2 separate regions of the Homo sapiens genome follow, and region 1 is linked to region 2. A link means that fine-mapping ties the variant in region 2 to the expression of a gene that starts in the linked region. Tissue or cell type: cerebellum. Region 2 holds a variant in brackets; the other region holds the start of a gene. All regions are shown on one strand. Distances are from middle to middle.

What was found. PIP is the estimated chance that this variant, and not a neighbour inherited with it, causes the effect.
Region 1: CFAP100 starts here. The variant in region 2 is fine-mapped to the expression of CFAP100 in cerebellum (GTEx, PIP above 0.99).

Annotation. Positions count from the first base shown.
Region 1 is chr3:126,391,400-126,399,548 of GRCh38, reverse strand. It overlaps CFAP100 (cilia and flagella associated protein 100), which reads right to left and starts at 4,640. Exons shown (of 17, transcript NM_182628.3): 1 at 4,571-4,640; 2 at 3,500-3,607. The coding sequence starts at 3,548. CFAP100-DT (CFAP100 divergent transcript) reads left to right here and starts at 4,751. Exons shown (of 2, transcript NR_103789.1): 1 at 4,751-5,250; 2 at 6,256-6,517. It overlaps LOC107986044 (a long non-coding RNA gene), which reads left to right and starts at 7,301. Exons shown (of 3, transcript XR_001740563.1): 1 at 7,301-7,366. RefSeq lists an enhancer at 1,235-1,744.
Region 2 is chr3:126,433,864-126,442,041 of GRCh38, reverse strand. CFAP100 (cilia and flagella associated protein 100) reads right to left here. Exons shown (of 17, transcript NM_182628.3): 15 at 7,661-7,866; 16 at 6,390-6,483; 17 at 5,486-5,751. The coding sequence ends at 5,638. ZXDC (ZXD family zinc finger C) reads left to right here. Exons shown (of 10, transcript NM_025112.5): 8 at 96-277; 9 at 2,315-2,410; 10 at 3,581-4,441. The coding sequence ends at 3,667. LOC124906280 reads left to right here and starts at 7,860. Exons shown (of 1, transcript XM_047449418.1): 1 at 7,860-8,178. RefSeq lists an enhancer at 164-799. The variant G/CG (reference allele first, on the strand shown) is at 4,988.

The DNA.
Region 1 (8,149 bases), 42 kb after region 2:
ACTTTGCTGAGTTCATTCATTTGCTCTAGTAACTTCCTTGTGGATTCTTTGAGATTTTCTATATATAGGGTTGTGTCATCTGTGAATAGTTTTACTTCCTCCTTTTCAGTCTGGGTCTTTTACTTCTTTTTTTCTTTTTCTTGCCTAATGACTCTGGCTAGAACTTCTAGTGCAATATTGAACAGCAGTGGTGAAGGTGGGCATCACTGTTTTGCTCTTGATCTTAGAGGGAGAGCTTGCAGGCTAACAGGTTTTGACTGAGGCCTGTGATGTTCCAGGCTCTGGGGGAACAAATGTCACTGCTGGATGGGAGTGAGACAGTAAGCAACACAGGTGAAGAAGGGTCAAAAGGCCAGAGGGTAGAACGTGCCACTGAGAAAATGAAACAGGGAACAGCAATGAGGGATGTAGGGCAGGTGGGGCACCGCGTTTTACCTTGTTTAGGGGAGGCCTCCCTGTGGAGCTGACATCTAAATGAGCTCCTGTGGGGTGTGAGGGAGGGAGTCCCAGGGAAACTGGGGAGAAGAGCATTCCCTGTGGAGGACACAGCAGTGCCAAGACACTGAGTGGGAGTGAACCAGGCCTGGCCTGGCCAGGGCTGCAGGAATGGATGGAGCCGGTGAAGTTGAGAGCTGTTTGCTGCACTCTACTAAATGCTCAGAGAGCAGGCGCCTCCGTCTCATGGCCCTCTGTGCCCCAGCCCAGCACAGTGCCTGACACACGGTAGGTGCTCCATGAACATTAGTGAAGTGACTGTGGGTCCCTGAGTGGCCTGATGTGGGCTGCATGTGTGGATGGCCCACTCTGCCCACGAGGCCACCAGGCCAGGCTTCGGATGTCCCAAGATGAAGGTTAGATTACTGAAGATCATGTTTCTCCACACTGCCAAATTAAACTCCTGCCTCCAGCCCTTCGCATCCCTCATAGCCAGAACTGGCAGGGGGAAGGCCTGGCCATCTGTGGTTTAACAACCTCTCTAGACCCCATGCCCTTCCTGAATGCTCCCATTGTGGGGGACGTGCACTTGAGAAGCAGCAGTGAGAGCCTGCAGGGCATCCTGGCCTGACGCGCATGCACACGGCTCCTTCAGCAGGGGCAAGCCTCTCCCAACCTGCTCCTTCTGGAGTCTTGTACCTGGAGCCTGGTGTCTTGGGAAATATATTTGGCCGCTCAAGGAACAAACTCTCCACACCCACAGTGAGGCTCAGGCAGGGTTCTGGCCCAGAGGGACCAGCCGCAGGCCCTCTCCTGACAAGTCCACGCGCGACCCCAGTGCCTCTCCTGGAACTGGCCCCGCACTGGGCTGGGTGCTGAGGGTGCAGGGCCAGAGCTCCGGGCATTCCTGCAGCCCCCACCCCTGCCCGCCCTGATGCCTCAAAGGAGGCTGTGGCCAAACCAGCCCCTCTGCCAAGGCTTAGGGAACAGCGTTCTCATCACAAAAGTCATAAAGCTAGACACTGAGCAGTCTCCCTCTTAAATCCTTCCCGTCATCTGGGCAGAGGCCAATAGTCCTCCCGGGCCACAGGCCCTACCCAGTTGGCCCATGCTGGCCTCCTGTCTCTCCCTTGAACACACCACGCCCACTCCCACCTCAGGGCCTTTGGGCCTGGCCAGCCGCCTAGAATGCCCTTTCCCTACTTGGCCTCCAGGCCCCTGCCCTGGGCCCTCTGGTTGAGGGGGGGTCCTATCTGTACTTGGCTCAGCATCCCCAAACCTCTCACTCCAGGTGGCTCAGTGTCATTTTGGCCCCTACCTTTGTCCCAGCTCCTGCAGCTGACCCCAGGACACAGAGCTCAGCAGTCCTCTTGACTGAAGCCCCTGGCCAGGTCCCCTGCCCACCTTGCCCATGCCAACCTCCCTGACCCACCTGACTCTGAGACCCCTGGCCCTGGGTGCCAATCCTGGCTCTGCCTGTCTGGCCTGGTTTTCTCACAAATGCACAGGCCCTCAATCAATCTCGAGGAATTACCAATGCCACAGGGTCATAGGGTACCCCAACTAGGCACTCCCCCTCATACCAATAAACAAATCAATATAGTTTACATGTCCTTCAACTGTCTTGTGGTAGCATAATTATCTGCATTGTTTTATGGGCACATTGAGAGTTAATTTGTTATCTATAAACATTTCAAAGCCATCTTTGTTTTTAAACCTTATTCCAGCCCTTCTTCATTTTAAAATTTACTCTGGAGCAAAAAAAGAACGAGAGAGCGTGTGCACACCTAAGTGTAATGGTGGGGGTCACTGTTTATAGCAGCACACTTTCTGAAACAAGCTAATCACCCATATGAACAGAGAATTGGTTAATAAATTATGATACAGCCATACTGAAAGATTACTATTCTACTCAAAAGCACAAAAAGTATAAGGGAATTCTTGATGTATTGATAAGGAACAGTCTCTACAATGTATGGGTTAATTAAAAAAATCAAGGTGCAGACAGGGTTTTCATTGTGTGATCTCCGTGTAAGAAAAGAACAAACCTCATCTACACACATTTGCCTGTATGTGCACTGAGCTGGTAGCCTAGAAGAGACAGGGGACAGTGGCCATCTCTAAGGAAGGGGCACTGTATGCCTTTGACAGGGTGGGAGAGGCTTTTCACAATGAGGGGCTTTTAACACACTTTTGAATTTTGAACCATGGAATACTATGCCTGGTCAAAACCAAATTAAATTCCAATAAAAAAGCTGAAGGGCCCCAGGTAGGCCTGGGCAGCCTCCCTCAGCGTCGCCCTGTGTGAGATCTTGGCAAATGCATGCAATTCCACTAGGGCAGGCATGTTTCATCCAGGGCCTAGCGCCAGCTGACCACCTCCTTGGAGCCCAGCCTGGCATTTGTGGTCAGAGGGGTGCTGAGAGAAGCTCACCTTCACGGTGACACCTTCCTCATGGTCTGTTGTGGGTTGAACTGTGTCATCCCAATTCGTATGTTGAAGTCCCAACCCCTACTGTCTCAGAATGTGATCTTGTTTGGAAATAAGGTCTTTGCAGCTGTAATTCACTAAGCTGAGGCCATTCTGGAGCGGGGTAGGCCTCCAATCCAATGTGATGGGGTCCCTGTAAAATGGGGAAATTTGGACACAGACACACACAGGCAGAATTCCACATGGGCAGGAAGGCTGAGATGGGAGTGATGCTTCTACAAGCCAAAGAGCACCAAGGATTGCCTGCAAAGCTCTGGAAACCAGGAGAGAGGCCCGGAATGGGTTCTCGCTCAGAGCCCTTGGAGGGACCTAGCCTTTTGGACAACTTGATCTCAGACATCCAGCCCCCAGAGCTTGAGAAAACAAATGTCTGTGACTCCAGCCCCCCAGTTTGTGGTGGTGCTTTGTTACAGCAGCTGCAGGCAATCCATATGCCTTGTTTCAAGGGAAGTAGGCAGATCTATGACTCCTGCCTAGTGTTTGGTTTAGAGCTACCTTAACCTGTGAGGGAGCTGGACAGGCTCCGAAGCTGCCCCTGACCTCTGAGAGTGCCCACCCTGGCCCGGTACTTACTGTCATTGGTCATGTTCTTGGAGACTATAGTGGACGGTATCTCAGACATCTTGGCTGAGGCCCAAGAGGTTGATGCAAGGCTTCTCCTCTTCTAAAGGAGATCCTCACCTGAGGAGTGACACAGTGCTTGAGCCTGGTGGTCCCCAAGCCCAGAGCTTCCTTCCCCCTGGGTGGCTGACAGCCACCGACATTTGCTGAGGGCTCACCTTGTGGGGACACCTGCCGGCTCCCTGCCTCTCCCACCCGAGGGTCCACTCTCACCTCCTGGACTTGGCTCTAGCTGCCTACTTTTTCTGTGCTTAGAACACATCAATCTTGGCCTCAAGCCTTTGCATTTTCGGCCTCCTCGGCCAAAAAATATTCTCCCATACCCAGCTGGGGGTGCTGGGCTTCCTTCTCTTCAATTCCGAGCTCAAATGTCACCTCTTTAGAGAGACCTCTCACCATCCCATCCAAAGTGGTTTCTTCCTCCCCACCCCCATGTGGCCTTTATTTTCTTCTCTGCAATTCCCACTATCTGATTATCACTTTAAAAATCCATTCGTTGTCTATTTCCCCCTAAAATGTGAGCTCCATGAGAACAGGGGGGTCTTTTCTGCTCATCCAAGCTCCTGACATACCCTTGGCACTTCTTAACTTCATCCATTGAATGAATTTTCATTTTTGCAGGGGAGGAAGCAGAGATTCAGCGAGGTGTCCAAAGTCACAGTCAGGAGGGGCTGCCTCTGGAAAGGGCCCCCACTCTAAGCTTGTGCCATTCCTGCCGCATTCCTGCTGCAGCCCCCTATTGGGTGAGCCTGGGGTTCGCAGGGTCGCCTCCTAACACCCGCGCTCTGCAAGGCCCCGAGCCACACAGCGAGGTGCACAGGGATGGTAGGACAGATGGGGTGGATGGTAGATGGGTGTGTTTCAAGCAAGTGGCATGCGAGCGGGCAGCCTTGGAAGGCGCCTTGCAAGTCCGCTCCCGGCCACGCGCGCCCCTCGGGCCCTGGTTTCGCACCCCTGCCGCCGCCCCCACGCGCCCTCACGGACCCCGCGCGCCCCCTCTCCCCGGACCGCGAGCGCACCCACCGACCCCGACTGCCCCGGCTCGCTCCGAAGCCTCCGCGCTGCAGTTCTCAGCTCCAGGAGCAGGGCTCTTGGGTTTACGTCTCCAAGGCAACCATTCTTCAGGCTGGCTGTGACGCCACAAAGGCCGCGGAGGCTGGGCGCTTGAGGGCTGGGCCTGCGGGCCGCGGGACAGGGAGGGCGCGGGGCCGGGCTGCTGGGTCCGAGCTCTGGGCACGATGTCCTCCCTGACGCCGCCAGGACAGCGCCTGGCCCAGGCCTGGGCCTGGTGAACGCGGGTTTCTTCCTCTGAGGTTCAACACTCCGCACTTGGGTTGGCTCCTTTCATCCTGATTGGTTTATTCGCCACGTGCCAAGCACTGAAGAGGGCGTGCAGGATGGATACTTTTGGAGCAAAAATAGCCCTGCTTCTTTCCTGGGGAGGGATCGCACTTTCTAGAGGGGCGGTTTTCAAAGTATGGTCTCAGGACTAGCAGCATCGAAAATGCTGGGAACTCGTTAGAAAAGCAAGTTTTCAATCCTCGCCCCAGAATCAGAAACTCGGGGTGGAGCCCAGCAATGTGTGTCCTGACAAGTCCACGCGCGACCCCAGTGCTGGCTAGGGTTGCAAAGCCACTGCTCTACGGAGCGAGCGAGATCCATCATAGTGGGACAAGCGAGAGGATGAGGCCATACAGACCAGGGCAAGTTTTGAGCGCGCAGATCCACCAGCTGCTTGAAGCCAGGGGCACCAGGATGTCTGGTCCCCCAGCTCAGGGATCCTGTCTCCCCACAAAAAGCAGCAGCAGAAGACCCCTCTTTGAGTTCTGAACATGTTCCTAGATTTTCCCAGTATCTATGGGGATTGAGAGATTGATAAAGGCTGCTTGGAGCTGAAAGCACAGTCAGTGACTCATCTTTTCAGGGACATTTAGGGGCTTCTGGGGGGACTCTGGAGCAGTCTGCAGCCCAGCAATGTAGTCCCAGTGAGGATCCCAGCTGTGCCAGGCTCTGCCTAAGGCCGGTGTAGTGGGTGGGAAGACCACATCCACAACAGGAACTCCATTGGAGCTGGGGGTGGGAGTGAGGAGGAGCTCCCAAGATGGAAGGAGCAGGGATCCCTGAATCTTCGCTGGTAGAATAGTGTCCCAACTTGCAATATCCACAGTGGGCTTTGCACAAGGGAGGAAGAATGTTGTATTGTGTTAAGCCACATATGTGATTTGTGCATGTGTGCATGTGCACATGTGTGCACATGTAGTGTGTGTGTGTGCATGTGTGCACGTGTGTGTTCGTTACAGCTGCTATTGTCAAATGTGCTGAAAGACAAGTTGTCCCTTTACCCTTAGGAGAGAGGCTCCTTACACTGACATTCAAAGTCCTCAATGACCCGGCCCCAGCCTACCTCTGCAGCCTTATCTCCCTACAAACCATCAAAGCAGAACAAAAACCTGTCCCTCCGATTTAGGTTTTAGCAAACCACAAGAAGCACTTCATAAACTGGTGACTCAAGTAGAAAAGTAAGTGTTTTTGTAATGGTTTATCTAAATACAAGGTGCTCTAATGAGACTTTTAGGAAGCTAGAACATAAGTGACCCAAAGAGAACAAAGGTACCCAGGCTCCTGCCCATTCATTGTCATCAACAGATCAGTTTATGAACAGTCGTGAATCTCCCCATGAACCTTACAGAGTGTTTTCTATGTGCCAGGTACTGTTCCACGCACTTGACACCAATCCACCCATTTCACCTGCATGATCACCCTGCCTTTGCATGAGTTGCCGGTGTGGACAGAGCAGGGACACAGTGAGACAGCGGATTCCAGCTTTGCTCTTACCTAGAACACACTGCCTCTCACCAGGAATCGTCCTTCCATTTTATGCAGTTATCCCAGACAATGATGCACAAGCTTTGGGAAAAAAACCCCACAAGTCCAAAGGTGTACTTCATAATAAAGGCAAGTTATCTGTCAGTTTGTGTGTTCTGGCCTTTGTTTTTGCTCTTGGTAGCTTACAAGGTTAGAAAGAAAACCACCTAGAAAACGTGACCTGATTTGGAACTTTTAGTCTTAGCCTAACAGGTCTAACTAGAAATACCATTTGCTGATTAAAAGCTAATTTTTAAAATCAGATGCATGATTGGTGGAGCAATGGTGGCTGGCTGGCTGTGTGGTGAATCGTAGTGGCCTGTGAGCTGTCCAGCCCAGGCAGTGGGCATGTGGATGTCTGCTTCAAAATCCTTCCAACATTTCTGTATGTTTGAAGCTTGAAAATGTTCATAATCAAACATTTTGGGAAAAGCTAACAATCTTCTTAAAGGAGAAATTCGTATTTCAGATTTCGTATTTTCCTCCTCAAAGAAGGTATATCAGTCTGGGCTCTCGGGAATAAACAACAGAAAGCAACTATAGCCACTTGGGGGAGAAAAGGACATGGGGGTGCCCCCAGACTCTGTAGGACGATAGGGAATCAAGCTGGGAGATGCTGTAGCCTGGAGCGGAGCCCAAAGCCATCGCAGGCGCGTTCTGGCAGAGAACATGCTGTGATCCGAAGTCTGCTATGCACTCCTGACCGGTAGGCAGCACCTGGATCGCCTGCCTGCACCTCCCGCCTTCCACACAAGATCTTTGGCTTCTGCCGTGGGAGGAGGGACTCAGAAACCAGGGGGGTCAGGAGTAGTCCTGTACCCAGACAGGGTATTCAGAGGTCTACCAGAACGACAAAGCCTGAGAGAGCAGCTTGTATTTCTTTCCTGCAGCACCTGGTCTCACCGTTGTTCTACAGCACAGCAGGCCAGGCTGGATTGGAGAGTCACCTTCAAGGTAAAATGCCTTAGATGCCCAGATCTCTCACATGGGGGTTTTCCTTTTGCTGAGAGGTGGTAGGTTATGGAGAATGACAGCCATGTCTACCGTGCTTCACGGTGAGTCAAGGGCTTTCCACAGGGAGGGCAGTGATATGAGCTCTTTGCACTACTTACACTGACCTAGGAGCCCCTGCATGGGTTGTGGCCTGCAGGACCATGTTTCAGGGGAAAGCTGCAAAGTCCTTAAAGAGTGTCTGAAGCCCCATCCCCCCTCCCTCTCTGGGAACGTGTCCCCAACCAGTGCCTGCCAGGTGCTCTAGCCTGGCATGCTTTTTATATTTTGTGAGCAATCACATTAATCAGATTGCTTTCCTGCCAGCTCAGATGGATGGATAATTTGATTGGAGTCTAGGAAAAAACAGGGATGACTTTTGGCATCCACATCCCAGGCATATCACATTTGACCACAGTGTCAGAGAAACAGTGCTAGTGGAATAAAAAAGAAGGTCTTGGAGCCCAGAGTAAGACTGGGCTCATATGTGGTCACAAGAGACCACATATCCTATGAAGGCGCCTAGATGGAATTGGGGAAACAGGCAAATGGGCAGTGGTGGCTAATGGAGATGGGATTTTGCTCTTTAGGGTGATGAAAGTGTTCTAAAATTAGACTATGGTGAACATTAGATTTACTCTGAATATAGTAAAATGCACTTTAAGTGGGTGAAGTTTAGATATGTAAATTATATCTCAATAAATATTTTCAAAAGGAGAAGAAGAAAGGGGTCCACATTGCCAAGTG
Region 2 (8,178 bases):
GGGAAGGCTGTCTTCCCCATAGTGAGACCTTGGTAAGGGCAGACCTGACTGGTAGATTGTAGATTGGGTGTGCTCGTTTTTATATTTCATTTTAGGAGCCTCACAGTCTACTCAGAGAAAAATAAAAGAAGGCAAAATGAGTCCTCCCCATTTCCATGCAAGCCAGAACAGTTGGTTGTGTGGGAGCCTCGTGGTGCCCAGCGGAGGACGGCCAGGACCAGCTCCAGCAGCTGGGGTGCAGTGCGGGGCGCAGGGCGTCCAGGTCCAGCTGGTGCAGGTGAGAGCTGGCCAGTCACACAGGCCAGCTGTAGGCGGGGTGGGAGGGTCACGCAGGTCTGAGCAGTGTGCGGCATGCTGCATCCCCTGCCCATCGCAGCACCCCCTGCCTGCCTGCCCCTCGTGCATCCTCCCCTGTAGACTGCCCCAAGTCCTGTCTCCTCACAGCCCAGCTCCTCCCTTTTTCCCAGCCTGTCCTGCATCTGCTCAAGCTCTGAGTGTTGCTGGGACCGTGCATCCACTTCCTGAACCTGTCTGTGCACAGCCCTGCGTCTAGCCCCAGAGTAGCCCGCCTCCCTGCCCGAGGCCCCCAGGGCTGTTTTGCAGCAGGATGAGATCTGTTTGAGGCCACCCTGCCCTTCTTCTGCAGGGCTGGGGCAAAAGGGCTCCGCAGGCCGTCTCAGCCACCCCATTTCTAGGGCGGCCTGCTTGTGGCGCACTAGCAGCCTTTCTATGCTGAAGGTGGTGGGGGTCTTTTCAGTGTTTTTCTATTTTCTTTCCTACGAAACAGAGCCCCTCCAGGGCAGGCCCAGGCCCCTCCCAGCCTGTCCGGGCCACAGATACCTGCAGCTGTGGCCAGTTTCCAGGAGGTCTTTGAGCACACCTGCTTCAGCAGCCCTGAGCACACCTGCATCTTCAGTCTCAGTTTGAGGGGCTGGAATGGGGAGGGAAGATGATTTGGAAGGATTTGGGGAGAGAAGAGATATACAAGCCGGGGCTGTCTGGGTTTGGCCCAGGTGTGTGCCCCTCTTCACCACTCCACTTTGTAGATTCCCTGTGGCAGGGGATGCGGTTGCAGGCCCCACGGAAGTGCGGAGGGTGGAGGTGACGCTGGCTCTGAGTTGGGAAACAGGCACGTTTGTGGGTTCAGAGTCCTGGGAGAGTCTCGCCAAGGAAACAGGACCAGGCCTGGGGCTCAGAGAGGCAAGAGGAGGGGCAGCCTGGGCAGAGGTGGGCTGGGAAGGGGGCAGGGAAGAGGCTGCGGGCAGCTGGGGGTGGCCCTGTGCTGGTTGGAAGCTAGCGGTGAGCGTCAGATGGGGGCTGAAGCTTGTCTTAGAGAGGGGCAGGAGCACTGGTCCTTTGTTTCCAGCTTCTGAAGAGGTAAGAACTCCCCAGGAGCAGGGGCAGGGGGAGGGGGAGGACCATCCAAGGAAACACTGCCTCAGCTGGCAGGGCAGAGGTACAGAGTCAGGACCAGAGGCTTGGCAATAGGGAGACGGTAGGGAAGCTGGTGCCACCGGCAGAACAGGAGCAAGTAGGGGGTATACTTTTAAGAGATGCCTGATTAAACCTGGGTTTGAGTTCTTTTTCTGTCCCTTACCAGCTAGCGTAGTCTTGGTTACTTAAGCACTCCGGGCCTCAGTTTTGTCATCTATGAAATGGGAACAGTAGTGCAGACCTTGACACACAGGAGCTTCTCAAACAGAAGGAATGAGAGGTGCAGAGCAGCAGCACCAGGAGCTCCGCTTCGGGGTGTGAATGGCCATGGGCGGACATGCAGGTGCAGGACAGGCGAAGTGTGGGACAGATGAAGTTTCTAGCCTGGACTGTGAGGGGCCTGGCAGCCTCCCCTCTCAGGAGCCCCTCTACCTGCCCTGGTCCTTCCAGCTGGCCCGTAGGCAAGCTGGGGCATGCAGGGAAGGCCCTCTGTGGGGCCCGAGGATTTGCTGGAGAGCACTCTGGGTACACAAGGTTGGTGGGGGTACAGGGCGTGCCAGGGCACCTGCAAGGAGTTGAGGAGCGTGCCTTAGGAGGGAAATCAGTATTTGGGCTGACTGAGGGGAGGAGCTGGAGAGCAGAAGGTTCCAGGCCCAGCAAAAGCTGCTGGGATCAAGGTGACAGAATGAGAACCAGGTGGGAACAGGTAGTACCCAGCCCCCATAAACAATTCCTGCTGGGTCCTCGGGCCTCCCTTGGAATACAGGGGGTGGGCTGGTTCTGCCACGCATTGCAGCTGGAGGAGACTTCTCAGGTGAGACGAGGACCTTTGCTGCACTCTCACAGACATGTGACAGGCCTTTCTGTGTTGCCTTCCCAGGATGACCCCTCCGGCGAAGGTGTCCTGCCCTCGGCCCGCGGCCCAGCCACCTTCCTCCCCTTCCTCACTGTGGACCTGCCCGTCTACGTCCTCCAGGTCTGGATGCCTTACTGCCCTTTGTTTTTCTTATTGAGACTCGCAGAGCCTTCGACTTCCAGAAGCCTGGCTTCACAGCTGCAGGCTGGTCACTGAGGCCGCGTGGCTTGGGAGGCTCAGTGGGTTGGTTGCCAGGATGTCTTGCTGCCTTCTGGAGAAGGTGGGTGAGTGGAGCTCAGATCTGCAGGACGCTGCAGCTCCTGCTGGTAGACAAAGCAGGAGAAGTTAATATGCTCTTGAAAGTGTTGTGCCTAGGAATTCCAGTTAATTCTCTGGGAAGAGGGCTGGCCAGGGCCCAGCCTGTGGGAGAATAGACTCGGATGAATTCAGTAGTTTGCTTACGTGGTTAAGCTAAGGATGGGTGGCAGTGAATGATTCAGAGTTTGATATGAAATAGCGAAAGCGTATAGCTTATCACATTTCTAACAGTTTGCCTTACGTGTTTATATATTTACAATAAGCCATGCAAATTGTGTTTTAGTTTTTTTGCATTCAAATTGGGCTATTCAGCATTTCCCTCGCAATCAAAACCAAACTTGGACAGAAGCACTGGTGGGAGCAGAGGGCCGGGCACCCAGGCTGCAGAGGGGTGAGCTGGAGGGCGGTTTGGCAGCATGGATCAGAGAACTTCAGAAGTGTCTGCTCCATCCTGCCTGGCAGCCCCCTCCTGGGACTGCTCCTGAAAAAATAAGGTAGTGACATAATCACCGTAGCCCGGAGTCAAATGGTGCAACAGCAGGAACACTTCTTGTAGCAGGAGGAGACAGGCTAGATGGGGCCTCCATAGCCCTGGGCCACATCCTGGTCAGCTGTGAGGGCACAGGCGGACGGACACCTAATACCTGGGAGAGTGCTCACCGCGTGAGAAGTGCGGAGAAAGGGTTGCAGAAGTAAAGATGATTTTGTTTCTGTAAAAAGGCATATGGGTATATGAACATGTGAGGGTATACGTCAATGTGCAGACAGAACAATCTTGAAAAATTTACAGTACAGTATTGAGTTCATTTTTCATCAAAGAACATGTGTTTAGAATAAGGGGAGCCTGTAGTTTTGAGTAAGAGAAGTCAGGTATCTCACCACGGGCCTGGTCAGTGTCCTGCTGTGTGGAGCCACAGGATCCCTCTGCCTCCCCTCCCTCCTCCCTCTTCATGACAATGCTTGGTTTTGCAGGAGGTGCTCCCCTCATCTGGAGGCCCTGCTGGACCGGAGGCCACCCAGTTCCCAGGAAGCACTATCAACCTGCAGGATCTGCAGTGACGGCAGCCTCGGCCTGGGCAGGCCCAAGGCCACGGTCTAGGACACACCTTCCCTGAGACTCATGACATGAGCCTGGGGAGACCTCATTTGGTTTCCGTTCAGAAGACCAGCGTAGCCCTTTTGAGACTTTTGGGTACATTTATCAAAAATGTTTTCCTTTTGTTTTACCAGGAATGAGTTCGGGCTATACTCTTTGAAACTGCCTTTGTGAGCAAAGTGCTTTGGCAAGGCAAGGGTCTCCCTCAGCAGGGCTAGGTGCACTACAGCCTCTTTCCCCGTGTCCCGTTGGATCTGAGCTGTGTAGCACTTGTTGCATTACAAAGAAAAAGACTTCTGCAGGAAATAGGGTAGAGAACAGGCTGTCTAGTCAGATGCAGCTTGATCTGTGGCAAAACCAAGTGTGGTCTTTCAGCTTCAGTGTGTTAGCATCCCAGCACCTGGGATGGGGTTTGTGGGCAAGTTGATTTTGCCACACTGTAGGGCCCAGGTGGTCCCATTGCCACCGTGAAGCCAAATTCTAGCCCAAGTCTGGTAGAGCAGTCGGGCAGCTAGTTTTCGGGGGAGGATGATGTGGTGGGACAGAGGACCTCAGTGGCCTATTACGGAGCCCTCTTCCCAGACTAAATTCATAGCCGAGAGCTCGGGGGGATGGTAGAGTTAAAATTTAAAATAATTTTCTAAATTCTGTATTTGGATATTAGTGTTTAAGTGGTAATTTGGCAACAGTTTATAAAGTGATGTTCTGAATACCATAAATTATGTGTAGGACTGTGATGGCGCGTGTATGTTTTATTATTGAGGTTGATGTGCACATAATACGTCAGTGTATATTTTTACCGAGTGAGGTCTGTCTTGTAAAAGGAGACAAGGTGATCACCTTGCCCATGTTTATTTGTAAGTCTGTCAACTTAGCAATGACACAGGGTCACTCCTAAATGACTTTTTTTTTTTTTTTTGCCTTGTGCCTTTTGAAGTATGTGTTCATTCAGAGGCTGTTTTGATTCTCAGACTGAATCATTCAAACTCTGCCCTGTGTTTGTTTCTTGAATTTGGGGGTGACATCAAGTTTGAGTGAGTCCTCCCTCTGTCTTGTCTCACTCTGAGGTGCTGTCCCCAGGTGCTGTTCCACGTGGAAGAATCCACACCTCGTCGACAAATGGGTCTTCTCCACAGACCGGCGCTCTGTCACCAACTAAAGGCGAGGGGAGAACTTGCCCACCTGGCAGGCTCTTTAGCCCCAAGGTGGCCCGGAGTCCTCCTCCCTCCATGGGAGGCTTTTGGCCACCATGGCGGGTGGAGCCGCACCCACCCCATCTCCAT[G/CG]GGGAGGAGAGTCTTCCCCCAGGAATGCCCTCTCGGCCTCTATTTTTCTCCCATGTGCCTCCCTGGGAACGTCACCGTGAAGTGACTGGGACTGGCACCCAGTGTTCTGGGCACCAAGGTTCCCTGCCGGTGATGGGCCTAACTCCTAGTGCAAATGAATGAAAGTTTTCTTATAGTCATGCACCGAAGGTTTTTCACCTTGGCTTAATTCAAGTAGCTACATATATGGCATTCAGCCCATTGTTTCTCCTTTAGTTGGTAGTGCTGGCCCTGCCATATACCTAGCTGCCTGCTTGTATTTCTTTGGTCTTTGCACAGAGGCTGATCTCACACTACACTCAGCGTGGAATTAGCTTTTGTCTCGCAGAGCAGCTGTTTTAGATGGGAACCAAGGTGTCATGCTCTTGCCCTCAAGCATCTGCTTAGGGTTAAATGATGAACCGGCGGGGTGCTGAGATTTGGCAATGGTGGCTGCATCCTTAAGCAGGCCTTCAAGACTCCAGAGAGACATGAATTTATTCAGGTGAGGAAGGGAGCACACAGGAGACAGAGAGGACTCAGTTGGGCCACTCGAGACCCAGCCCAGTCTCTGCTTCCTCTGCCAACATCTTTGCTAAGCCTTCAGCCAGAACAGCTATGGTCTGCGAAGATTAAGTAAAGAAAAATAGCAGCTCCTCCTCCTCCTTGTCCATCAGTGTGTGCTCAGACTGTTGTTTGATCCTGTGGGCTGGGGGTCGTGAGCGGCATACCAGTGTCCTGCCTCTCTGCAGGGGAAACAAGCCCAGTGAGCCTTGCTGCCTAGTGAGCCGTATGCCCATATACCCCTGCCCCTGGTGCAGGGAGAGGCCCAGCAGCTCCAGTCACCTCCAGGCCACTCTGGTCAGCCCTGCAGGCTGAGGGCTGGAGTTAACTCTGAAATAACTGGGGGTGTGAGTCTGCCTGGCATTTATCAAGCCTGGTCTCTGGAGCACCACCTATTAGATGTGGGGGCAGAGGGACCTGCTTCCTGTTGCCAGGGTCAGAAGGCAGGAAGGGTGGGGGCCTTGGGACACAGCAGTAGGGGGACCCCAGTGACGGGCAGTGAGCAGGGCTTGGGGTCTGGCCGGAGTGTGGGTAGGGTGGTGGGACCCTGCTCCTGAGCAGAGTGTACCTGGCTGGGGTGGGTGGGCATGGCTGAACCAGGCTCAGCCTGGCATGGGCCATGGGCTGGCAGCCTGGGGAAGAGCCCCCTGCAGGAAGCAGGTCCTGGGAGAGGCCTTGCTCCGAAGGCAGCCTGTCTCCCTCAGAGCCTCATTGAATGCCTTCAGAGTGGTAGCATCAGGGGCTTGGGCTGCAGGACCTCAGCTGCCATGCTGTCTTGGGACCCCCTCCAGCAGAGACCCCCCAAGGCGACCCTGCCTACCTTCTTCTTGATCTCAGCCTGGGCGCGCGCCCGGGCCCGCTGCAGATGCTCCTCCTGTAGGATCTTTTGCATCTGGAGCTTCTCTTCTCGAAGTCTGGGTGGCAAGAAATGACATTGAAAACTGGGGGGACCTGGAAGGTGTTGTGTAATCTCCACACGGAGTCCCCAGGCCAGGCCGTGTCCTCCCTCAAGAAAACTCCCAGCTCCTCTTCACCTCTTTTGCCAGGTCAAGTTCTCAATACCTATCCACAGCCAAAGCACCGCTGCTTTTGGCCAAGGTGGCCTAGGCCCAGAGGAGGACAACCAGGGCCCTGCTGCTCCGAGGCCCTGGCTCTGGCCTCCTGCAAGGGCTGAATCTAAGGTTCATCCAGCAGACCCCTCCCAGAGGCACATTTCTCTGAATCTACACCCATGGCCTGATCTGTGCACCTGTGGCCTCCCTTGCCACCATGAAGGCCAGCATCCCCCTGGGGCGAGAGTCCTGTCTCCTTCCTATATATACTCTCAGTCATCAAAGCCTGGTCTAGTGCCCACTCTGAGCAGGGTACCAGGGACCCAGAGGAGAAGCCCCTGTGCTTGGGGGGACGGATGGATGTTTGCAGATTGCGCTGTCTCAGAGCCCTGCACGGGGTGGATGAACCGGGCTGCCCACAGGCCAGGGAAGCCACAACCCCCATCTACCTTGGGTTCAGGCTGGTGTCCCGACAGATAGCAAGCTGCTGCCCATCTGCCCCCCTCCACTCCCCTCTGAGCTGAAACTCCCAAGGCTCTCTGAGCCTCTGCACTTTGTCTTCCGCTCCAGCAACACTGCTGTAGCCATGCCTTCTCTCCTGGGTGCTGGCAGCTGCCCTTGCCCTCAGCCTCCAGCCCCTCCAGTCCAGCCCCAGAGGGAAGAATCTAACCACACCCTACCTGGCCGTGTTTGCCCCACTGCTTAAAGCCCTCCACTGCTGTTCCATGTATTTGAGGCTGACCGTGCTAGCCACACTCTAACTAAGCTCCAGCTCTTCTATCTTCTAGACCCTGTCCCTCCCTGAGCCTCCTGGCCACATCGAGTCACTGTCGTTTGCTCTAGGAAGCTTTCCCTAACCACCCCCCACTTGACTGTGATGCCCCTCTAGATCCCCCCAAGACATGGGCTTTTGTCTCTCATAGCACAGAGCAGGAGGGGCCTGTCTCCTGGGAGTGCTTTGAGGGTGGGGCCTGTATGTGCCCTCTGCCCTCAGGGCCAGCCAGGACACAGCAGCTGGCAGGGAGAGCCTAGAGCTCACCTGATGCGCCGCTCCTTCTCCTTTGCCCTCTCGGCCTGCTCGATCTTGACCTGGGGCACGTGCTCCAGGTTCTCTAGCAGCTCATCCAGCTGGTGCTCAATGATGGTCAGCATCTGCACGGTGCCCAGGTTGGCCTCCTGCTGGGTGCCGGTGCAGTGCCGGTACACATCCAGCACCTTGCAGTTCAGGCTCTCTAGCAGCTTATCCTGTGGAGGAGGTGGCTTCCAGCAGGGTGCTGGCAGGCGGAAACCCACCCCCATGCCAGTGCCTTCAGCGGTGGCCTGCTGACCTCCCAGGGTGGGGGCCACCGCTTGGCACACAGTGGGAGCTCTGAGAACATGGGCTAAAACAGAACTTGGGGAACTGGCTTTTCTTGGCCAGAGCAGCCTATCCCCCGGGCCCCCTGGAGTCAGCCAGATCCCTGGTTCCAGCCCCTCTCCCAGCTGCCTCTGGTGAGCCAACGGGGCCCAGTCCCCTCCTCCAGGGAACCCTGCACCCTGGGCACCCCACAGGGCTAT